Regions from separate parts of the Homo sapiens genome. Here all the other regions are linked to region 1. The links come from fine-mapping of genetic effects on gene expression. A gene starts in region 1. Each other region holds a variant in brackets. All regions are shown on one strand. Distances are from middle to middle.

What was found. PIP is the estimated chance that this variant, and not a neighbour inherited with it, causes the effect. A credible set is the group of variants that fine-mapping cannot tell apart.
Region 2: its variant is the best candidate, but not a certain one, in a credible set for the expression of SYNE1 in whole blood (INTERVAL, PIP 0.83).
Region 3: its variant is the best candidate, but not a certain one, in a credible set for the expression of SYNE1 in adrenal gland (GTEx, PIP 0.52).
Region 4: its variant is the best candidate, but not a certain one, in a credible set for the expression of SYNE1 in blood mononuclear cells (TOPMed, PIP 0.85).
Region 5: its variant is the best candidate, but not a certain one, in a credible set for the expression of SYNE1 in stomach (GTEx, PIP 0.83).

What each region holds. Positions count from the first base shown.
Region 1 is chr6:152,634,855-152,639,963 of GRCh38, forward strand. SYNE1 (spectrin repeat containing nuclear envelope protein 1) reads right to left here and starts at 2,508. Exons shown (of 146, transcript NM_182961.4): 1 at 2,335-2,508; 2 at 1,784-1,951. RefSeq lists an enhancer at 6-135.
Region 2 is chr6:152,582,220-152,587,328 of GRCh38, forward strand. The region is part of intron 3 of SYNE1 (spectrin repeat containing nuclear envelope protein 1); the gene reads right to left. Among named protein-coding and RNA genes, the nearest start is that of SYNE1, 53 kb to the right of the region's middle. The variant A/G (reference allele first, on the strand shown) is at 3,053.
Region 3 is chr6:152,596,882-152,601,990 of GRCh38, forward strand. The region is part of intron 3 of SYNE1 (spectrin repeat containing nuclear envelope protein 1); the gene reads right to left. Among named protein-coding and RNA genes, the nearest start is that of SYNE1, 38 kb to the right of the region's middle. The variant T/C (reference allele first, on the strand shown) is at 2,051.
Region 4 is chr6:152,564,514-152,569,622 of GRCh38, forward strand. The region is part of intron 3 of SYNE1 (spectrin repeat containing nuclear envelope protein 1); the gene reads right to left. Among named protein-coding and RNA genes, the nearest start is that of SYNE1, 70 kb to the right of the region's middle. The variant T/C (reference allele first, on the strand shown) is at 1,898.
Region 5 is chr6:152,570,632-152,575,740 of GRCh38, forward strand. All of the region lies in intron 3 of SYNE1 (spectrin repeat containing nuclear envelope protein 1), which reads right to left. Among named protein-coding and RNA genes, the nearest start is that of SYNE1, 64 kb to the right of the region's middle. RefSeq lists an enhancer at 2,074-2,636. The variant C/T (reference allele first, on the strand shown) is at 2,796.

The DNA.
Region 1 (5,109 bases):
TTAGACCACAAAGAAGTACACATTTAAGAGGAGACACACAGAGGACCTCGCAGAGGCGTTTGGGCCCTGCATGCCTGTCACATTCAGACCACAGGGTGTGGCTGCAGTAGCTAGAGCTGGAGTTGTGAAAATGCCACCAACCTTGCCCAGTTATGGGCTTCCTACATCCTGTGACAGTCACACCTCCTTTCATTTCCAAGATGCTGTGTGTGCAGCATAGTTATCAGAAAGTAGGCCCAGTGCAGCACCAAACAATTCTTGAACATTTTTAAATGGCAAACTAGCTTTTTCCAATCTCCTCTCCCTGGCAGGAAGGACTCAAGTAAAAAAGAGTTCTTAAATGAGGTCAATGAGGACAGAAGAAAACCAGTTTGTGAAAATCATTAGTTCAGAAAGATGAAAGTGAGACTATAAAATAAGAGCTAGGCAAATATTTCCAAAGCCTAGCAAATATTGTTATCTGGGTCAGTCTGAAGCTGTTTCTTAATCTTCAGCATGAAACATATTAAGTTAGTATAGATCTCTCACATTTTGTTCTAAATCTGCCACAAAGTAATGAACAGAAAAGAAAAAATAGATATGTATTTTGTCACACTGTTCCGGTGATATCAGGAACTTTTTAGCCATACTACAAATCTTTTTTCACCATGGGGAATAAAAAGCCTCTCAAAGAACAATCGTCATGACTCGTGATTAAATTCGCATTTTATGAAGATGTAGGTCATATTAATGACCTTTGCCTCATTGAAAATTATTATACTTTCTCTTGCATAGGTCTGGCTTCTGTATACGAATGTTGTCTTTAGGAAAGTCATTCTCAGATGAAGACAAAAAATGGATGGGCATTAAAGAAGAGAAAAATAATTCATTTTTAACTTTCTTAACATTCACAGGAACATTTCAGATACAAGTTTTCCACCCCAAAACGAAAAGCTCAGAAATGAACATTGTGGGATGCTAAGGCTTCATTGCTGATATTTCCCTCTGGGCTGGACCTGACTCTATTTACGGAAGGGGGCAGAACTTCCAGCATCCAAAGTCTGGGATCCCAGTCAGCACACCCAGCCTGCCTTCCCAAGGGGCTTCTTCCTGTGCGGCTGATGGCTGCTTCGTTTTGCACGGATGCCTGCCCGTTGGGATGCACCTGGCCGCCTGTGCACCACCATTTCCCAGAACTCCTCCGCCAGCAATGCAAGATCTCTCTATGTGAAACGTATCTTTATAAAGAGGAGACGAAAGTTCTCTTGCCCTCTAGTGCAGGCTCTGCCGGGAAGCAACTGCACCATGACAGCGCCGCTGGAGTCTGACGCGCCAGGGCCTCCGCGCAGCCTTCAAGCCATTTCCCTCCCCCAGCCCTTCCTAAAATAGTCAGGGGGTGGAGGAAGGGAGGCTCCTAGAATCTGTTCAACGCCCTACCTCTCCCATCTGATAGTAGCAACAGTACCGACCATCACAATAAGAGGCTGGCTGCCTTTTGCTTCTGCACCATTGGAGCCCAGGAGATGTGCCACAAGCGGAAATGACAACTCAGAGAGGGGGATATTAATAGGGACATCTACGTACGAGATGCAAAGAGGCTCCCCAACCTCCTAGTCTCCTTATCTATGAGTATCGCACACGTACACACATCACTGCCACCACCCCCTCCCATCAAGCACGCAGAGCCCCAGCGTGCAGGCACAAACTTGCTGACAATTTGTCTGCAATGTGTTCGTCTTGCACCTCTCTCTCCTCTCCCTGTCTCTGTCTCTCCCTGTCTCCCAGTCTCTGTCTTTCCTTTTACCTTCTCTCTCGGCCTCGTTCAGTTTCCCAGCAGCAAGGCGAAGCGAGCGAACGCTTCCTCCCGGCTCTCTGCGCCCAGGCTCGGCGGGACCCCGGGGATGCGCGGCTGTCCGCCCGCCCTGTCGCCGGGATCGGGCGCGGTCTGCAGGACTGCGGGAGCCCAGCCGCCCTGGTGACAGAGGACAACAATCTCAGCCCGCTGCGGCCGGCGGCCGCGGCCCGGCGCCCGCGCTCACCCTGGCTGGCTCGCCCACACTCACTCCCGCGCCGGGCTGCTCAGCCGCGCTCCCCGCCCTCCGCGACCGGTTCCTCCTCCCGGCTGCTCGCTGGGGGGTGAGGCCTCCCCCTTCGCCCTCCCCCACGCATCTACTGCTCCTGTCGGGAAGGAAGGTCGCCCAGGCCGGTTCAGCCTCTGGGCAGGGTCCCTGCACCGCCCTGGCCCGCCACACCCCCTCCCCGGCTCCGTGCCCCGCGCCCCGCGCCCGGCTCCGGGATGCGCCGGTGCCTGGAAGAGCTGGGGGCGGGGACCCGGAGGCTCGCAGGCTTCCCTACCTCCTGGAGATGCACGGCCTTGGGCGTTTCTCCGCAGCTGCAAAGCTGTGCTGTGACCCACCCGCTCAGCGAGCCTTTATACCGGGACCACCTCCCGGGGGTCGAGGTGGGAAGGAAATGTCCCTGAGAGCCGGGACGCGCTGCCTCCGCTGCCTGGAGGAGCTGCGCTGTCCTGCCAGCTAACTTTTGCCCACGGTTTCCACTGCCCGGGTGACCTTTCTGAGCGGAACCTATCCTGAAAGGCTGGGAGGTTCCCTGATGGTCCCAGGAAGGGCGTGATGCAGAGCAAAGAGCAAAACCCGCTGGCTCCTTTTTCATCAACTTCCGAAAGATCCTAAATCGTTTTGGCTGCCAAGTCAGTAGCAAATAACTTAATTTGAGGGAGACTGGTCAGGCTTTATAGATCTTTTTTAATGTTATGTATAAAGTTTAGACTTCTTGAGAAAGCGCTTGACATCTTTAATTCTTGACTGTTTATTATGATGATTCTAAAAACCACTTTTAGGTTCTTCAGGTGCACTGTATGCACCCTGTACATTGCGGAGCCATTTGTATCTTTGGCCACAAGTCCTTCTCGTGGTGTAAGAGATCTTGGTGTTGCCTGGTAGCATTCAGGAGAATTTATTTTGTTGTGGTTTTATGGTATCCAGGCAAAGTCAAACACAGTCTCTCTTCACCAACAGTGAAGTCCAAGTCCAACAGGATGATTGCAGCTAAAATAATCGAAGCCATGTTGCAATAATCTTAAAAGTAATAATCCCCCCCTTGAATCTCCAATCTGAACAAAACAGTCATTTATCCTCTAAATTTGCTGAAAGGAAGGAGCAGTTTATAAAGTAGATGAAGTTTCTCTTTGCTGCCTGCCTTTCCCTTACCTGCTGCCAACATTCCCACTGCCTAGCTTTCCATTTTCTTCAAATTCTCCTTCTTCTGGATCGTGTCAAAATAATAACATCTGAAACAAATCTGGTAAACCAATCTGATGTGTTCCTCTTCTTTGTGCTGACTTTTGTTTTTTTTTAGAGAGAGAAACCAAACAATGGATCTCTATTTGCAGAACTTGCTACCTCCAAAAGTTGGGCCTGGAGGAGGAGTGTTTGGGATCACTCTCAATGTATGCCCTGCCTCTGCCTGAGGGCAACAATCCTGGGGCACCCCCAGAGCCCCTTGTGGAGACAACCACCAGAGCATAATTATTCCAGGTCAGCCCTCTGTGCCCAGTGGCCACAAAATGGGGTCCAGATTTCCAGGCTTGCCACTCAGAAGAAACAGATCAGAATGGCTCAGCTCACCCTCTCAATCCCTACCTTCATAGAATCAATCCACCCTGCCGGCTTTTGAAGATGGGTAGAAAGTTATTGTGCCAACTTTGCCATTCTTTTTGTTTGTTTGTTTGTTTGAGATGGAGTTTCGCTCTTGTTCCCCAGGCTGGGGTGCAATGGTGCAATCTCGGCTCACTGCAACCTCCGCCTCCCAGGTTCAAGCAATTATCCTGCCTCAGCCTCCTGAGTAGCTGAGATTACAGGGATGCGTCACCACACCTGGCTAATTTTGTATTTTTAGTAGAGACAGGGTTCCTTCATGTTGGTCAGGCTGGTCTCAAACTTCCGACCTCAGGTGACCCATCCAGCTCGGCCTCCCAAAGTGCTGGGATTACAGGTGTGAGCCACTGCACCTGGCCACCAACTTGCTATTCTACACGTTAAGCAACTACTTTCTTGGGTTTACTTACTTGAGAAGTGAGCCACTTAAAACACAAGCCTGAAACATTGCTTCCACCAACTAAAACTCCTCTACTAGGCCTAATCTCTGTTCTCACAGGCTGAGACAGACAGAAGCATAGAGCTGTCTTGCTGGCATTGATTCCCTATACAGCTGAAATCCCATTCTCAGCTAAACTTTATCCTCTGTAGAAGGACTAAGCACATTTTAGAGTTTTGCAAAGGGCTTGTCAGTTTCACACACCCCAGGGAAGGGTGTTGTAGCTCCATTTACTCAACAGCTATTGCTTGAACACTTACCACATAACAAATATTGTCCTAAGTGCTGGGGCTACCGTGGTAAGCAAACTCTGACCGGGCTCTTGCCTTCATGGAGCTTACAGTATGATGGGGGAAGAGCCAGACATTCATCAGAGAACCACACAAATACTTATAAAACCCCATTCTCCAAGCAAAGGCAAATGTTGCTATGAGAGCTTTCAAGAACGGGAGTTGGCCAGGCATGGTGGCTCACACCTGTAATCCCAGCATTTTGGGAGGCCAAGGCAGACAGATCACTTGAGGACAGGAGTTCGAGACCAGCCTGGCCAACATGGTGAAACCCCATCTCTACTAAAAATACAAAAATTGGCCAGGCACGGTGGCTCATGCATGTAATCCCAGCACTTTGGAAGGCCGAGGCAGGCAGATCACAAGGTCAAGAGATCAAGACCAGCTTCACCAACATGGTGAAACCCCATCTCTACTAAAAATATAAAAAATTAGTTGGGCATGGTGGCGCATGCCTGTAGGCCCAGCTACTCAGGAGGCTGAGGCAGGAGAAACACTTGAAGCTGGGAGGCGGAGGTTGCAGTGAGCCAAGATTGCACCACTGCACTCCAGCCTGGCGACAGAGTGAGACTCTGTCAAAAAAAAAAAAAAATAGCCAGCGTGGTTGTAGGCGCCTATAATCTGAGCTACTCGGGAGGCTGAGGCAGGATAATTGCTTGAACCTGGAAAGCGAAGGTTGCAGTGAGCTGAGATCGTGCCACTGCACTCCAGCCTGGGTGACAGA
Region 2 (5,109 bases), 53 kb before region 1:
GCTGGTAAAAATTCTCCTTAGTACCTAGTTCAAAGGTAAGATCTCCCATAATATCATCATATCTGGAAGTTCTCTTTCCCTTCTCTGTAGCACCTTGTCTTAAACATTCTCATAGTATCTCTCACATCTCTCCTTGTAATAACAATATCATTACTTACCTAGTCCCACTCACCCCCTAAAAGTATTCAAATATGTGTATATATACATGTGTGTGCATGAGTGTGTACACACACTGAGTTAAATTTTAAGTCAAATTTATATATATACACACACACATATATTACATATTACATATACATGTTGCCAGCTTAAAATGGGTTACCAGTGCTCAAAACTTTTTACATATATATAAATAAATATATATATAACTTTATTTTATTTTAGATCCATGGGGTACATGTGCATGTTTGTCACAAGAGAATATAAGGTACTGGTGGAGACTGGGCTTCTAGTGTACCCATTACCCAAACAGTGAAAACTATCTGATAAGTTATTTTTCAATCATCAGCCTCCTTCCATCCTTCCCTTTTTTGGAGTTTTCAGTGTCTATTACTTCCATCTTTTTTTAAAATTACTTCATCTTTGTTAAAGAGTATACTGGCCACTTACATATATTGTGGCCTTTTCAAAATTTGCTGAAATCTGTAATTCTACAATATAAATTTATTTCATAATTTCTAAATACTTTGTAGAAGGTTGCAATCATATTTAAAATTTTTCATCAGAGTATTCTATTTAGTAATTGTTTTGCTATGAATACAGACAAAATCATGAAGTGCTATTAAAATCAAGTGGTCACTTTGTTGGAGTGGAGAGATTCTGAAGTGTTATAAATCTTATACATTTTATAATTATTTTATTGACAAAGACCAATAAATAAGCTGCTACTGAGTAATATAAAAGTTACTTTGCACCAAAGGGAATACATTAAATATATATTTTGAGTTACCTTTGCTCAGATCCTAAATCAGTGACCCTCATTAAGGAACCACTGTGTGTTGGGACTTCTAGTGTGCCCCGGCTTCATGCGTCACATCCTAAAATGAAGGTCACTCAGGGTGGAGGGGCCTTTAGGATCATCACAACTTTCCCTTTCTCACACCCTCAACCCATATCTGCCTCCCTGGGAGGACAGGCTTTGCAGTGACATCTCTATCATTACTAGTTGGGCATCATTACCTCACTGTACTGAGCCCCATTCCCTTATTATGAGGATAAAAATAGTGTCACCAGCTTTCTAAGGTTACTGTGAGGATTGTGCAGAAAAATAGGAAATCTATAAATGTTGCCTGTTTTATTACAACAATTCCAATGTGTGGGACCTTTATCAGAAAACTTAGAGAAACAGAAGACGCCTTACTTCCAGAGACTGGTAAAATAGGCTGTGTCTGTTTTTACAGGTTCCAGAATTTCTCCTACCTCAAATCCCCCTATCAGCCTCCAATCCCCTGAAAGCTGGCAGTGACTCAGATGAGCCTGTCAGTCTGGAATCAATGGTTCATTTCTGCTGTAAAAGGGACATTGGAAGAGAGCACTATGCCTCACTGGTCATTTGACTGAATTTATCAGCTCTTTTCCTGAGAGCAAAAGTGGGAGAATTAGACTCGGGTGGGCCTGCGGCAGAGAGTAAAAAAGCAGGGATGGACTGGAGGTGAGGAGTCCTAACAAATATGTTTATCCTACTCAACATTACCTAAAAACTAGATATAGCCACACAAGGAAGGAGAAAAACATCTCTTCTGTGTGCATCTTTGCGATGGATTTAGAGGCAATGTATAGGAAGGCATTATTGCCTGGGGGTTATGAACAGAAGCTCTGGTACCAGACTGCCTGCTTTCAAATCCTGGCACTGGCACTCCCTAGCTCTGTGATCTTTGGCAGATTATGACACTTGTGCCTCGATACCCTTATCTGCTAAATCGGGGAGCACAATAATTAAAGTTTTCCTTAGGGTTCTGGTGAGATTTAAATAAGATGACACATGTCATATACACTTGCAGTAGTGCCTGGCCACAAAGTTTCAATAAATATGGAGAGAGAGAGAGAGAGACAGAGAGAAAGAAAGAGATCACAAAATCGGATCATACTATACTTTAACTTTTTATACTTAATTTAGTGTGATTTATAATTTATAATCTAAGTAGAGATAACCCAAAATACATATTTAATGTATTCCCCTTGGTGCAAAATAACATCTGCTTCTCTGTATCCCTACTTATTTTATTTATTTATTTTGTTTTTTGAGACAGGGCCTTGCTCTGTCACCCAGGCTGGACTGCAATGGCGCTGTCAGACCTCACTGGGACCACAGTAGCTGGGACCACAGGTGTGTACCACCATGCCCAACTAATTTTTTTGATTTTTAGTAGAGACGAGGTCTCGCTACATTGCCCAGGCTGCTCTACACTTCTGGGCTCAAGTGATCCTCCCTCCTCACCCTCTCAAAATGCTGGGGTTACAGGCATGAGCCACTGCACCCGGCCTTATACTTTTCATATCTTATTTAATATAGCAAGTTAACGTAATATTTATATGTAACCCTACACTCTTGTGAAGAAAATATGCAGAAAATATTTCTGGAATAAAAATGTATACATGCTTCTGCATCTTCACGTTACATTACATTTAAATCTTCATCATATTTTAATAGCTGCATAATGTTGCATGGTATGAATGCATTTTTCTATTCATAAAGAGTTCCTTATAGGGAAACATAAGATGTTTTTAGCTGATATGGCTTGGCTATGTCTCCATCCAAATCTTATCTTGAATTGTAGTTCCCGTAATCCCTACGTGTCATGAGAGGGACCCGGTGGGAGGTAATTTAATCATAGGGGTGGTTATCCTCATGCTATTCTGCTAATAGTGAGTGAGTTCTCATGAGAGTTGAGGGTTTTATGAGGGGCTTTTCCCCTATTGCTCGGCAGTTCTTTCCTTGCTGCCGCCATGTGAAGAAGAACGTGTTTGCTTCTCTTTCTGCCATGACTGTTAAGTTTCCTGAGGCCTCCCCAACCATGCTGAACTGTGAGTCAATTAAACTTCTTTCCTTTAT[A/G]AATTACCCAGTCTCAGGTATGTCTTTATTAGCAGCATGAGAACAGACTAATATACTAGCATTATCAAAAATGTTGCAATTAACAACTTTGTGGTCTAGTTTTGCATGCAAATGCAAATAGATCCGTGGGATAAAATCATAGAAACAAAATTACTGACTCAATGTTTATGCACGTCTCTAATTGGAGGAATATTGCCTAAGTGCAGATGTTTTCGTCTTTTGCCTATTTTCTACTGACTGGTTTTCCTTTTTGTAATGATTTATAAAGACCTTTGTCTATTACAAAATTATATAACTTCTGTCATATTTGTGACACATTTTTCTCCAACTTTCTCATTTGCTTTTTATTTATACATTTTGTTGTGCAGATATTTTTAGGCACTGAAATGTACAAATCAGTTTCTTTTTGGTTCTGGGTTTCTGACAAGCTAAGAAAGGATTTCCCCATTACTAGATTATAAAAGAAAAAGAAAAACACCGCCATGATTTTTAAAATAGTTCTATGGTTTCATCTTTTAAAATTTAGGTTAAGCCATATGGAATCGTAAAAATAAGTGATTTTAGCCTACAAAATGTCAGTTGCAGACAAATGTATTTAAACCTTTGGTCTGCTTGAAATCGCATGTGTTTGTGTTTGTGTGTATGTGTGCATGTGTTTGGGGTGTCTGTGTGTGCTGTGTGAAATACAAAGACATGAGGTAATAAGTCAGCTCCTTTCCTCTGCTTCCCTATCCAAGAGTCTCCAAATGATGACATGAATATTCTCATCTCTTACATATGTGGGCCTATTTTGAACTACATATTCCACCCTGAGTATATATATGTCTAAATTACTATGGTTGGCAAGTATATTCCAATATCTAATAGAATTAGGTTTCCCTCATAACTCTTCTTTTGTAGACTTTTTTCTATATACCATATAATGTTTATTTTTCTGAATTAATATAATTATTTCTAACAATTCAAATTTTTTAAAAGTCTTGCTCAAGAGTGCAATTTTAGCTTAATTTGTTATCTGACATCTTTATTGTGAGTTTTCTTGTCCAGGAACAAGTTATGTCTTTCAATTTAGTCCAAGTCCTCTTCTATATATTCCTCAAAAGACTGTGTCAGATTTTTCCTCATATAATTTCTCCGCATTTGATATCTTCCACCTTCTTAAATTCTCTTGCTGTTTTTTAACAGCTTTTCAGTTAATTCCTTTATGTCTTCCAGTCATACATTGATAATATATGTAACTAATGATAGGTTTGCCATACCACTTCTAATTATTTTTGTTATTTATTTGTACCCAATTATATTGGCTGGTATGTGACTACTGACTTTGGTGGGAATGTTCTTAAAACTTAGCACTGATGCTGGCTATATACAAACATACTCTCATACACACACACACACACACACACACACACCACTATGAAGATTTTATACAAATCAGAATTAAGTGCAAATTTCATAGAACTTATTTTGCATTTGGATGGGTACAGAGTTTCTTCTTTGGGTTATTACTAAGATAAATTATATTAATATAATTCATAATATTGAATTATCCCTACATTCCTAGAAGACTCCCCCATTTGGTAACACATTACTGTATTAACAAACTGCTAAGTCTATTCTAGGTCACAGAAAATAATTGCAGCTCTATGTTGTCTTCTTCAGCCCTGATTCTCTGATGTTCTTCAGAAAGAAAATCGGTCTGTATTAGAACATTCTCCACATCTACAATGGCTTCCCATGGGCCAAGTCATATCTTTGTAAAGGGTTATTTTGGGACCATTTCGCTTATCTTTAGAGAAGTCCATATCCTAACTGAGCTTCAGAGTGGTATGTATCAGTCTTTGATGTCTTTCACTTGATCTGATCCAATTATCACTATTATTTGACAGATAGAGATACTCCTATCCTAAAGATTTGGGTAGGAGTATGATTATTTTCAAGTTTACCAATGTTGAATTTTTTCCACAATTTTTGCATTCCTTTTTGTTGCTTTTGATAAGTCTCAGGGAAAAATAAAAACATCCTTCCTTATCATCTTTTACCAGAACTCCTACACC
Region 3 (5,109 bases), 38 kb before region 1:
ACTGGTCCTCTCTAAAGGCACAGACAAAGGCACAAGCAAAAACTGCTCATCCTCTGTGCCAGGAACATGAGGGCCTCCATATGTCTGGGGAAAATGTGGGCACTAAATTGGTAGACAAAATAAAATTCAATAAGATCACTCTTACCCTCTTCTCCAATCATAGGTATTTCTCTAATAGCATAAAAAATTTTTGTTAAATTGATATGAAGTGGTAGATTTCATTTACACACACTTGCTCTGGGAGGCTCTAGATATTTTAGTAAACCAACAGACATTTGATTTTTGAGCAACATGTTTTCCCATTGAGCATATGGAGAGAAATTTATTTTTAAACATTAAATAGACGTGCATCTTACAGTAACTAAAACTACCTAAAGCACTTTCCTGTTTGCCTCAAACTTTCTTTTTTCTTAGATACAGTGTCTCACTCTAGTTTCCGAGGCTGGAGGGCAGTGACATGATCAGGGCTCACTGCAGCCTCGACCTTGTGGGTTCAAGTGATCCTTCTACCACCTCAGCCTCCTGAGTAGCTGGGACTACAGATGTGCACCACCATGTCTGATTAATTTTTTTATTTTTATTTTTTGTGGAAATGGCATCTCACTATGTTCCCCAGGCTGGTCTTGAACTCTTGGCCTCAAGTGATCCTCATGCCTTGGCCTCCTATAGTTTGGCAAGTACAAGATAAACGGCTGTTGAATTGGATTTAATTCAGCAGCCAGATATCTGCTGTGTTCAGAATGAGTGAGCACAAACTCCAGAGACCATGTGACTATTATACAATTATAGACTGCATGTCCACTGAAGAAACAGCTACTTGTAATGAATTCTTTCTTTTGTTGTAGCTATTATGAATATATTTATAAGGAAAAATCCCTAAAATACATGCTTAAATATGTAGTATATATTATAGTCAAGCGATGTTTTTCTTCTCTAGAAAATCTCCCTTTTTCTTTCGCTATAGCAACTATGGTAGTGAGTATTATTTACTTTTTATATCATGATGATTTTTATAAATACATACATATTTTCATTTTTCTAAGACTAGGAATTGATCCACGAGCTCCATCTAATTTAGTATCAGTATCACTGCATTGATGAAGTGGTAACGAAGGCACCATCCCTTATTACATTTAAACGAGGTAAGAAAAAGGAAATATTTCCTGGGCCTTAGGGAGAAAAAAGCTCAGGCTCAGATATACAGATTCAGAAACTGATATGGTTTGGCTGTGTCCCCACCCAAATCTAATCTTGAATTATAGCTCCCGTGATTCCCATGTGTTGTAGGAGGGACCCGGTGGGAGGTAATTGAATCATGGGGTCGGGCCTTTCCTGCGCTATTCTCATGATAGTGAACAAGTCTCACGAGATCTGATGGTTTTATAAAGGGGAGTTTCCCTGCACAAGCTCTCTTATCTTGCCTGCTGCCATGTGAGACGTGTCTTCCACCTTCCACCATTATTGTGAGGCCTCCCCAGCCACGTGGAACTGTGAGCCCGTTAAACCTCTTTCTTTTGTAAATTGCCCTGTCTAGGGTATGTCTTTATCAGCAGTGTGAAAACTGACTAATACAGAAACTGAATATACACATTAAAATATTAAAACAATTCTTCTTTAAGTAATTTAATTAAGTCACATTTGCCAGTTTTTCATAAACTCAATGGTCTCTTAGCAATACTTCCCATAATGAATCAGCTTCAAGAGTTTCAAAATAGCATCATGGGAATGTGGTGTCCTCTTCATTTGCAAAGTTAAAAGAAAGTCTGCCATTTGTAGAGTGCAAGAAGGGACAATGTGGCAATTAGTCATCACAGTTGATGAATCTGAAGAATTCAAAATTCTTGAATCTGGGTAAGTCTGGTCTTTGTATGCAGAAACAGAAGCAGGTAACATATAAATATACATTCAATATGTGATCTATCTGACAGATAATACAATAGCCAAGAAGAGTATTTTATGATATAATTAACAGTGTTATTTTTCATCTAGCTGTGCTTCCATGTTAATCCAGATGTTTTGCTGCTGTTCATCTTTGTCACAGAGAGAAGCC[T/C]AATAATAACAAATTCAAGTGATGTTATTATCTTTCTTAATAGATCAGAGGCCTCTTCTGAGTCTTATACTGTAATCAAATAGAGAACAAACATCTGGATTTAATTTTCACCCTTCTCGTGAGATAATAAACAGCACAGTCCAAGGAAATTTACTGTTTCTTTAATAATTTCAATACTACAAATTCACAGGAGAGAAAAATTATCGTTCTGAATGTATTAAAAACACTAAATCCAGCCCCTTGAGTCCTCAAATGATCACCAATTTTAAAATGGACAAGCCACTGGCTAATAATGACTACACAAGCCTGCCAAGGAAAACATCACTGCAGGCTGCTCTAGTAAGTGCTTGGAATACAGAGGAAGAATGCTCTTTGTGCAGTACTATTTGGATCTACTTATCTGATGGCATTAGGTTATCACACACCCACAGGGCTTTCCAGAATTCCTCCCACTTCCCGCCCTTGACATGCTGAGCAGTCCTACATTGGTGACACTATCAGATCAAAGAACTAAAAATGTCTTTGGTTCCCAAAGGAATAACGACAAAAGAACAATAAATGCTTGGAATTAGTGCTGTGGACACTCTGTCTACAAGAGCCAGATACATCAGGGTTTTTTGCCTAATTTTTAGATAAACATGGATAAATTGTGAAAAGTTGAAAGAGGCTTGGTCAATTCCTTTGGTAAGAATCCCAAACTACTGACTATAAAACTGCTCATTATGTAACTAAAATTCTGCTGCCTTTCTATAGTAAGAATTAAAATCCATTGGCCAGATTCATTTGAGTCAAGTGTATTCAAGGGTATTATTTTCTTTACATTGCTATGTCTTCTATTGTTTACTTATCCTACAAAAGCAATGGCATTATGAAATCATATACGTATCCTATAGCATAGAAAGTCAGACACAAACACTCTAACAAGGTGCTACAAGTCAATAGATGAAGATGAACTACATGAAATGATATCTGGTAGGTGAAATGTAGAAGATGAGGTAACTGGAGACACAAGAACTACCTGGAAGGTAAAAGGTACGACTTGGGTTGAACCAAAAAATAATGTGAGACCTGAAGAGATTCAGTAAATTCTATAAAATGTCTCCCCTTTAGTGCCAACAAGAGCCAGCAAAGTCCAGTAATACTCATCAGGACTGACGACTCCATTAAATGCAGTAGCAGTTGACAAGCCCTATGACTTCACATATAGTATGTAACAAAGGCGAACAGTTTAACAGGAGGATAGCTCTGATACGGCACAAACCTCAGAAGAGGTGACGAAACAAAACAACAGATGGCGAGAGGCTAAGGAACAGTTGCCATGACCCAGGTGAGAAGGAACTGAGAGTCCAAACAGATCTCACCTATGCATGGCTTTCTTTTAGACACTGGGGTATAAAATGTATAATCCAAACAATACTTTTTACTCAAATGGCTGGTAAAGGGTGATAATTTTTTTTAAAAAGCTCACAATTTTAAAATTGTTCCTATTTTTTTAAAAAGCAAACAGAAACCTTTCTTTTTGGCATCTTCTCCTTTGTCTTACATAGAAACTTAAGTGCAGAATTTTAAGGCTGATTACGGATGAGTAGAAGCTATGGTAACTTTTTTCCCTTGGGGTTGAAGTATCTGTTTGCTGGCAAATAATGCAAAAAAGAAACAAATGGATCTGCTGAAAATCTACTTCTGTATTTCTCTCTTAACTAATGACAATCATTTAGCTCCAATTTTCATGTTCATGTTTCCCTTTCTTCTTGGCTTTGCTTCAGGTCTAAATTTTCCTTGATGTTCAGAGAAACGAAGAGATGGGAAAGAATTGGGGTCACTGGAGGAAAGTTTTCCTCTAGATGGCTCTTTATTTTATAAAGAATAAAAGAGATACAGTCAGAAAATTTTTCAGTAATTCAGAATATGAATGTATGCACTGTGAAATTAAAAACTCTTACTTAAATGAAACTACGGTAAAAATGATATTTTAGTAAAGAACTAAATGTCCAGTGAAGGTCTGAACAAACAGTTTCATCTTTTCTAGATGGGAAACATGCTGTGATTCTTCCCACGTATTTACAATGTCTTAAAGTTGCAAGCTTAAAATCAGACAATCTGGGAAGATCACTTTCCAAATCTAACAAAACAGCAAAAGAAACTTCTCCCTCTGAGAAGTGAGGAAGCTTTGCTCATTCAAATGGATATGGGATATATGCTAAATGGTTTACACCAAGCTAGGGAGCAGCCATTCAAATCAAAAGCAGAAACATTGGTAGAGTTCAACAGTGAGTCAAGTCAAATGCCTAAAAATAGGAAGCAAAGCATTTGATAATTACTGGGAGACAAGATTTATATATGATGTGATCATTGTCAAGGCCATGATCAATAGTAGACCTGGCTAGGCATAGGGTTAATTTAATTGAAGAAATTGAGGTTCACCTAATCCATGGGTTAATAAATATATTTTAGGCAAACCAAAGAAGAAGGAACAATAGGCTGAGGTTGACATTTAATTGGCAATGCCATCGAGATATCTGGTAGGGCAAAAAAGGCAAATACAAGACAGCCCAGTGTCGCCTACACAAGGTGAGGAAACTTCGCAGCAGGATTAGAATGTGGATGCCTAACTTTTCCAATATACAAAGAACCCAGGCAGGCTGCTATCCTGCTGAACAGGTATGGGTAAAAATGAAGTTCAGGCCATAGGCAGGAGGAGCCCTTAAACACCCACAGAAAACACGACAAACCATCATTGAAACGCTTGCAGAATCACTAGACTTAGCAATAGTTCTGGGAATCTAACCGGAGTTGCAGTTTGAATGGAAGTTAAGTGTCATTGAGAGGACTGGTTCCTAAGATGAGATCCCAGCAGTAGATGAAATGAGAACATCTAAACAGGAGTGAGGAGAATGTCCACTCATTACTGATTCCATATACTCAGAAGTAGGCTGTGTGTAAAAAGTGACACCTGCCTTTGAAATTCATCCCCGGGGTTCACCTGGCCATTCTCATCTTGCCTACCCACATGCTGCTTGTCCTGGATGGTCTTGCCCCTGGGTCTCCACTCATTTTGA
Region 4 (5,109 bases), 70 kb before region 1:
GCCATGTTGCCTAGGCTGGTCTTGAGCTCCTGAACTCAAGTGATCTGCCCACCTTGGCCTCCAAAAATGCTAGGATTACAGGCGTGAGCCACCGTGCCTGGACAGGAACGTTTATTATAACATCAAATTTGTTAACCCCCAAAAGTTTGCTTATAAAAAATGTTAACTATTCTCATGATTTCTAGGGAAAAAAAAATCAAACTCACTCTTCAGTAGAGGCCAAAAGAAATATGAATTTCCTCAACAGACTTTGGGGTCTAGGAGTGCAACAGATCCGACTCGGGATCCCAGCATCATCATTTACTGCGAGAATTTCAAAAGGTGACTTAGCCACTTTATAGCTTCATTTAGCCATATGTAAACTAGAGACAAAAATAATAATGAAAACCTCCTAGAATCACTGTAAATATTAAGTTAGATATTTTATGTAAATGCTGTGTCCAACACTTATCACATAGTATTCATTCATCAATAAATGTTAGTTACTTGTTATACTTGTTTTTACTCTTATTGATTTAAACATGATAGCAGCAATTAACTTCTCTTAAGGGAATAGAACAGACCATTGCTTTCTTTTATTATTAGAATATGTATTTAATAAAGACAGGGAAGCGAAGAAGTTTCTAGAAGCCAGGAGAAACCTGATCATTAATTTATGTGGTTCCTTTTGCCTCCACTAGCTTCAACACTAAGAAAGAGGGCCTCTTGTGGAATTTAGACATTCAAAGGTATATTTACTGAGCAAATCCAAATCATTGGTTTCAATTTATCTTGACATGTTCAGGCCAATTAAGTTAGTTAATTACTGGGAATAAAGTAATCCTGAATCCTTAAAAGCTGGGCCCACAACCTAGTATTCATTCCTAAGGGCTAGCAGATTTGTCCTCCAGTATGGCATATGCAGCAATTTAAAGTCAGGGAAAAGTATGGACTTATTAATACTCTTTGGCATTTACTGGCACTGCTATTTACCCTCTATTACGTGCTAAGTGTCTGACGACCCAATACCCATATATTCAACATTAAATCTTCAACCTTATAATTCTTGAAATTCTCATTTGGTATTCACTCAAGACCCAGAAAAGGGTCAAAGGTTGCTAAACTTTACTTCGCTTTAAAATCTTCCCTTATTCAGACAAGTTCCCTGCTGAAGTTTAAAAAAAAAAAAAAGGAGGCTCTAAGGAAGGGCATATTTCTAAAAAACTGAAAAAATAAGAGGGAGATGGTTTTCAGTTGTTTTACAAATAGGATTTCTTGTCCTTTTCAATTTCTCACTTAAGCCTTATTTCCATTTGGAAATCCAGCTACTCAGTGCCAACTAAGGGGGAGGAACTGTGGGGTTTAAAAGTTAGAATAAACATCGTTTGTAGCCTTAAATGAGGACCAGTCTTCTTAAATGACTCAAGAAACATTTACTGCACACAAATTATGTGCAAAGCACTGACTACATACATGGGTGATGGGAGCAGAGGGCACAGGGGCAAGGAGAAAAATAAGATACAAAACCTAAACCTAATGTCCTTGTAAACTTAGTTCCTTTACATCCTTGAAAAATTATTTTTTTCTTCCACAGCACTACAGCTGTGTATAGGGAAAAACAGGGGAAGAAGAACCAAGCAAATGTAGCAGCTTCTAGCTCCTTACCCCTCCAGTGTTGAACCTGGGGTGTGTGTGAAAAACCAAGGTTAAGCATCACAGCCCACTGAGATAAGAGTGAAGGAACAAGGGATGACGCAAGGTAACACAGAGATGCTGGCAGGTTTGAGAAAAACATGTTCTCGCTTCTCAAGCTGAAGCGAGCAACTAGCATGACCTTTCTTTGTATTTTCGTTTTGCAGTGTCAAGGGCAATGTTGTTTCTTTTCAGGAAGAAACAATACCAGCTTTGAGAAAAAAAA[T/C]CCACATTAAAAAAAAATAGCAGCTATTAAGAAGTGTGAGAGGAAGGAGGTGCAGAGGGGACACAGGAAGATCCAAGAGCAGCAAAATATAGGTTCAGAGGCAATTTGAGTCCAATCCACCACCTTTCAAATTAAATTAAAAGCATGGTTAAAAGAGCATTTTTGGCACAAAATCTTAAATTCACGGTGCTGTAGGATAAGGCTTAGTGGGATTATCAACAGAGTGTGGATGCCAAATGGACATCAGGCAGGAAGAGAAACCACAGATGCATTTTCAGCAAGGTGTCTTTATAGGATTACTCCACCTAGAGCTTGGCCTGACTCAAATATTAATTTCACAAACAACCGCAGTTGTAAGAGTGACTTCCATTATTTAAGGGCCTAATCTCGGGTAGAATAACAATCCACAAACACTTTTTTTGTGGCACTGCCAAGCATCTTTTGTTTTTCAACATATGATTTTAAACATTAACTTGTTATTGTATATATTTAAGTTGTATTACATGATGTTTTGATACACATAGTGAAATAATTACTACGGCCAAGAAAACTAACATATTCATCTCTTCACATACTGTGTGTGTGTGTGTGTGTGTGTGTGTGTGTGTGTGTGTATGCGTGTGTGGCAACTGTATACCCTTTGTCCCCCATCTCCCTAAACTGCTCCATCCCTCTGCACCTGTTAACTGCTGTTTCACTCTCTGTTTCTATGCATTTGCCTTTTTTTAGATTTACTGTTTAAGTGTCATGCAGTATTTTTCACTTAGCGCAAGTCTTCTAGGTTCATCTATGTTGTCAAAAGTCGCAGGACCTCCTTCTTTTTAAAAGCTGAATAATATTCCATTATATATATGCCACAATTTCTTCATCCATTCATTTGTAGATGGATGAATGCTAAGCATAACCATTTTAATCATTCTGTTAATAACTCAGCCAATGAAAAAGATTTTTTTCCCATTATAATATAAAACTGTACGTTATTTTGTTTTCCTAACCTACACAGTGCTTACATGTTTCTTTAATAGTAAAGATCGTAATTAGCCTATAGTGAAGTATATATAACAGATAATTTGGATGCTTCTATTGATTTTTTTGTCTCCATTATTACCACTGAGTCCTTCTACCATCTGCTGAAGCAAAGGCAACAGAGAAGAATAAAAGAAGAACAGAGTATTTTTTCAACTGCCATGATGTCTCCAGCCTGAAACTCTCCTTCTATTCCAATGCTAACTAGTTATTATAGCAGTAACTTTGCACTTACAGATTTTTGTGCAAAATCCAAGAAAAAAAAGTAATCTTTATTGTCAAAAAATAGCTTCCTGGGTGCTTTCTGGAGAAAAGGAGGGCGGTCTGACTTCCTCATGTAGAAAATCTCAGATATGAAAAGGAAAAGTAACAAGGGAAGGGAACACATTGCTTGTCCTATCAAATATTAAAAATAAAATGTAAAAGGTGCATTAATTAAAGCAATGTGGTAACAGAGAAAGAACACACCATAGAATGCAATGAAATACACAGTCCAGAAAGAGACTTGTGTCTATCTAGACAAAATGAGAAAGATCATTTGATGAATAGTTTAGGGAAAACTAGAGGGCAAATGAAAATAGAAAAAAAAATCATTGAGAACCTCTCTTTACACCAAAATAAATACCAAATGGTTTAGGGAATTAAAATAAACTATAACAACTACCTGAAAATATAGTAAATATGCTTAATAATGAAGACAGACATTTTAGGCCTAAAAATAACTAAAGAGGAATAGGTTTCATTGCATAAAAATCAAAAATACATATCCAACATATTATAAACATAAAGGCAAAGAGTATAGTGGGAAAATATGTGCTAAAAATATGAGTTAAATTTTTATTTTATTTTATTCTTTTTTTTTTTTTTTTTTTTTTTTTGAGATAGCATCTCTCGCTCTTTTGCTCAAGCTGGCTGAAGTACAGTGGCGAGATCTCGGCTCACTGCAACCTCTACCTCCTGGGTCCAAGTAATTCTTGTGCCTCAGCCTCCCAAGTAGCTGGGACTACAAATGCGTACCACCACACTCGGCTAATTTTTGTATTTTTAGTAGAGATGGGGTTTCACCATCTTGGCTAGAGTGGTCTTGCACTCCTGACCTCAGTTGATCCACCTGCTTTGTGCTCCCGAAGTGCTGGGATTACAGGCATGAGCCACTGCACCTGGCCTATTTATTTACATTTAGAGACAGGGTCTCTCTATGTACCCAAAATAGAGTGCAGTGGCTATTCATGGGTGCAATCAGCACACTGCAGCCTCCAACTCCTCGTCTCAGGGATCCTCCTGTCTCAGACTCCTGAGTAGCTAGAACTACAGGCTCTTGCCACTGCACCTGGCTTAGAATTTTAAATAAAATCAATGAGAAAAATTTTCAGTCCCATTACATTTGTAAGCAAAGATATGGACCAGCAATTCACAAAATGGTCTTTAAAACATATGAAATAAAGTTTTACATTATTCAATTTAAAAAACAATGAGATAAGCATAATATCCAGGGGTAACTTTTAAACAAAAAGAAAGAGATTTTGAGCTGTAATAAGTTGCCATTTTTGAAAGCCAGTATTTTTAACTCTTATAATGAAGATTAAGTAACATTAATGAATTAGTTCTTTATTGCTCCTAGTCTCAGTATTATCATACATCAGTGGTCCTTAAAGTGCCCAGAGCAGCAGCATCAGCACCACCTGGGAACTTGTTAGAAATGTAAATTCCTGGCTCCAATCCTGACCTACAGAAGCAGATCAGCAATCGGCTTTAACAAGATACCCAGGTGATTCTTATGCACAATCAAATTTTGGGATCACTGTATGGATCATAAGCTGTAGAAAATTTTGTGGTGCAGTGGTTCCCAGCATGCATCCAATTTCCTGGGTTTAGTTTAATCATCACCTTATGGGCAAGTTATCTAGATTCTCCTTTCAGTTTCCTCATCTGTGAAATGGAGGTAATGATGGCACTTGCCTCATAAGGTTGTTGGTAGGATAACAGAAGTTTATGTTTGAAAAGCATATGTATCAGTGCTTATATAGCTTAGCCCATTGTTAAATTTAGATTTTTTTAAGTAAGTTTAATAAAGAAGAGAAAAGACCATATTTTAAAGATTTAAAAGTAAAGATAATCAATAATTACACTGTGAGAAATGACAACTAGATTTGCATATCTGTAGTAGAATAGAAAAAATGGGTCAT
Region 5 (5,109 bases), 64 kb before region 1:
GATGGGTGGTGTGCTGCACCTATTCCCACCAGGAAGCGGGTCTTGCAGATTACTAACAGCTGTTCCCTTAATCAGAGGCAATCAAAACAATGGTATCCCCTTCCTTCTACAAATTAATAAAGGGAGCTATCTAGGAAGGTTCAGTCCTTACTATCATGGTAAGAAGTCTTTCTTTTGTAGTGTACCTCACTAAAGAGAAAGACAAACAAGCAAACAAAAAAACTCCTACTCACAGCAATAAGTAAGGTAAGCATCTATCTAGGAGCTCTCTCCTAAAGGCAGCCAGATGCGGAGGAATTCACGAGACTGCCCTGCCCAGTCTCAGAAAGGGATGCACAAAGGGGGATTCATCCCATTGCTCAGAAAGCAAGAAGGGAAGGGACTTTGCTCAGAAATCAAGCTGCTTATTTAATTTGATGTTTACTCTGGTCTTTTTTGACCTACACAGTAATACAGAGATATTTTTCAATTGACAACTTTCTATCTCAGTTACTTAGTTTCAATAAATTTAACCTGTAAACATTACCTTACAATGTGTTCCATTCTGAGGTTTCTTTTAACCCAATGGAATAGAAATGACCCCTACTTGGTTTGTCTTCTGAGATTGCTTAAGAACAGGAAGCAAAGTACTGATTACTAGGCTTGCTTTTAAAATAACAGCCTTGGCAATGATCTCTAGCTGAGAACTGGCACTTGTGTTGACTCTAGGTCTTCAGAAAAGGAAAATCAAGGGAAGAAAGAAAAATTCAATGTGCAGAAACAAACAAACAAAAAATGCCAGCAATTTCTGAAGGAATGGAGAATACATGTATATGAATCCTGTAGCACCACGAAATTTAGAGCTACACACCTACAATCCTTCAGAGGCATTTCATGACAGCTGCATGATGAAGGGGGAGGATTTATATTTAATTTCTATATGTGTATACTTTTTACCCTAAAAAAAAGGAAGGAAGAAAGCATGCAAATTAACTTCTTGTCACTAATAAAATGGTGTGATTTAACCCAAAATCCGTGACTGTAAAGTACCCACAAAGAGAAAGAAAATGGGTCTCAGGAAACAAAATTGTTTTATTATGGCTGTATCTGTATTGGGTCAATTACTGTGACGAAAGAGGCATTTTCCCTGGCAGAGAAAAGATTAACATTTTAGTGTATTTTCTTAAATAATTTAAAAAGGAAAGAGTAACATGTAACTAAATTTAGTTTTTAATCATTTTCTACTTACTTGCTATATGCAACTAACTTGTTATTTTCAATGCATTTTTTAAATTTTTCAATGCTAGTTTGTGCATCATCACAGTTTTTAAAAATTTCCTTGCCAGGAAATTATCATATTTGTAATTACAATAACAAAACTCTAGTCACTTCCTGAATTAAAGAAGGGGTTGGGGTGGGGGCAGCTTTATCACCGCAATCTTGGACTGACCTTTTGCCTGAAGCATTTGAAAAGGCAAGTAGAAATCAAATATATTTTTGCATAATGCCTACATCTTTAATGACACTTCTGAGGTGTCTGAGTGATATTTCTATTGTCATTGCATAATATAATACTTAGCATTTTACTGTAATGAAGTGTAACAATTGAGGTAATGTTACTACCATCTTACGTAAATTCAAACTTTTACAAACCAAAGTATGTTCTATTTTTGTCCATTTTGCCAATTCAGTTCTTCTCACTATTCTTAAAGGAGGGTCCATTAATTACATGTATCCAAAATGCACAACAATCTAATTAGCTGTTAGAATGACTCACTTCAGTCCTCAATGTCTTGCTTTTTGTAAAAGTGCTCATTTCCTATGACTTATGGGAGAAATTGTTTGGATTGGAAGAGCTTCAAAGCCAATAAACAGAATAAGGGGACTCCCAGAATAATAGATTTCTAGAATAAGAGCACTTTTTATGGATTAGGAAACAGCTCCAGAGTCTATGACCCGCCCAACGTCACAAAACCAGAATGTCAGTAATACTACTCATCGTTGCCAGATACTCAAAAGCTCCTCTGCAGTTGGAAAGATTCGTTCCAGAAAAAGTCTTTCCTGAAGGGCAACTCACTTTCGCTAGGGATGAAGAGTAACTTAAAAAGGAGAGAGAGCGGAGGTAAGGGGAATGAATTGGTGTAATGCCAAAAGCTGTGGAATAAAAGTTATTCCATGGTATTTGTTCATGGGTGTTGTGTGTGAATGATGTGTGTTGATGTTTTCTGGGTCATTTAGTTTATGAGGGAAGGCAGGAAAAGCCAACAGAGCATACAAAAACAAATCAGCCACAAATTCTGAAAGAGGGAGTTGCCTTTGGTCTAATAAACATTTTAGGAATGTAAACACCTTCTGGGAAGGATTCCTTCTGGGAATGTCTATTTGACATTCACACCTCATTGTCAACTGCTCGAATTAGATAACACCTTGTTGAATATCCTCAGGCAATGAAAAATTAAAGGTAAAGAAAGAGAAAGGAATACTTTTCTAAGGGCGAGGCACTTAGAGGTGGAGACTCCCCTCTGGGCATTACCTACTTGAGGTCTCTATAGAGGAGGCTGATTTTTTTTTAAATTTTATTATTATTATACTTTAAGTTTTAGGGTACATGTGCACAACGTGCAGGTTTGTTACATATGTATACATGTGCCATGTTGGTGTGCTGCACCCATTAACTCGTCATTTAGCATTAGGTATATCTCCTAATGCTATCCCCCCCCCTCCCCCCACCCCACAACAGGCCCTGGTGTGTTATGGTCCCCTTCCTGTGTCCATGTGTTCTCATTGTTCAATTCCCACCTATGAGTGAGAACATG[C/T]GGTGTTTGGTTTTTTGTCCTTGCGGTAGTTTGCTGAGAATGATGGTTTCCAAGGCTGACATTTTTAACTGAAACTGAAGAGAAGTGATGAAAAAGCAGGTTGGATTCCATTGCTCACAACTCTTCTTTCCTCAGATGACCCCAACTTACCATTCTCTAATTTTGAAAACAGGAAAAAATGTTCAAGAAGATTTAGAACCTATCTTCAAGAAATGTCAAGAATGTAATATTGGGACTCTCATAAATCATAACTTTTCTGCCTACATTTTCTGAAGATTTCCCTATAAAAGTCTGTTACCTTGACACTCTAATTCATATGCTCAAGAATTAGGTTAATTATTTTTTAAAACTTTGAAGAAAATGATCAAACTAACAGTAACAATAGCATCTACCCATCCTAAAAGAGTATGCATCATATACAGCAAACTTCTATGACTAAGAAACAAAACAGGTTCATTGTTAGATACAGCATAATAGCATCAAAGCTCTGCTTCACCTGTTGGAAGCACAGAACATATTTTAACTTTACGGGCTGTGGGAGCTGGGGGAAGCAAAAACATTAGAGATGTTCAACCAAGCTCTGAGTCATCTCTTTATGAGTTACAGATTCTTAAAAACAAATTAAATGAAGTCCCCAGCTGTAACTATGATTTGAGCCTCATAACGGGGTGAGAATGGAGAAAATGGGCCAAATCTACAGTTATGGAATATATAATGGGATATACACATATATATGTATATATATACACACATATATATATACACATAAATATATACATATATATATATATATATGGCAGATATAACAAGATAGGCCTTAGAAGTTAATTTGGTGGCAAAAGGAGTAGGTTTAGAGAGGAAATATATATAATATATATTTGTTGTTTTCGTAGATGAGATCTGGAGAGTTGCCTCAGAAACGTGTCTGCACCTCTGCAAAGGCATCCCCAAGCTCAACCCTGTGTAATTACCTCCTCTTTGCTCTTGTTCTTGCCTTTCCTTTCTGCACCTGACAGTTAATTGCTGTAATTGAACAACAAGGACTGGGATGCCCTTCCTCCTCTTGCTCTCACTTCTTTCATGACTCTCTTCAGTCTTTGTTGGTTGATTAAGCTTAAGCAGTCTGGTAATCAATCCAAATCTTATCTCATTAATTGGACTAAATGAAGCTTTGAGGGAAGGAAAGGAGATGAGCATAATAGGTGCTAAGTAAATACCGTAGTTGTTTCTCAACCATGGAAAACCCCACTTGAAGGATATACACTTTATATGTTTGCATGAAAGTATTAAGGTATTTGAAGTAACTAAGGTAATCAAAGTAATTTTCCCCAATGTATAATCTAACTTCTGTTTTTTTCAGGCACACTAACACTTTCAGATCCTTGGGACAGGCACCATTCAGTCAAATCCTTATAGAGCAGGACTCTTGAAACGTCAGTTCACTCTTAGCTGTTTTTGGTTTGTTTTTTGTTTTGTTTGTTTGTTTTTAATTTTGTTTGCTTTTCATTTCTGTGGCTTTAGGTTCTTTAAGCCACCATGGAAGTACTTATTTTAAGAGAATAACCATTGGAATTATGCTTTCTTAAGAAAAATAAATGTGAATGAATGTACCAAACATGAAATGTAAGAACTCTTCCATCTAAGCTATAATCCCATCCCTGAATGACACATGATGGTGGTGGGTACAGTTGATGAGGTTTTCTCTAACTCCGGTGGTATAGGATGGTGGTCTTCAATCTGGGAATGTAATAAATGCCCTAAAGGACTATTTCAAGGAGCAACACCTGATAAAGTTTTTCCTAATGTCATACTGCATTGAGCAGAACAATTCTGAATGAAGCTTTTATTTAGTGGTCTGGGCTGAATTACATGCCTCTAGATTTGTATCTGTCAAAATGTGTTTCATGGACGAATGACATCAGAATGCAATGCTCACTAGAGATGGAGCTTCCTGGGTTCTGCATTAGATGCCCCAAGACTCTCTGAGACAAGGCTTAGAGGTCTGCATTGGAACACACTCCTCATGTCATTCTTATCCGAACTAGAATTCAAAAACCACAGCTTTAGAATCTTAAAATAGTTGTTCAACAATTTATTTATGCAAACTGCTGAAAACATGAAAAAGAGAAGTTATATTGCATTTCACTACAGTTCAGTAATCCAATAGGCTGTTGTTCCATTTTAAGATTGTGGAGTCAACATAAATAAACATGATCTTTGCAGTCAGAACAGCCTAGATTTGCCACAACTTACTAGCTATGCAACCTTGAACAAGTTTCTCAGCCTATCAGAACATCAGTTTCATCATCACTGT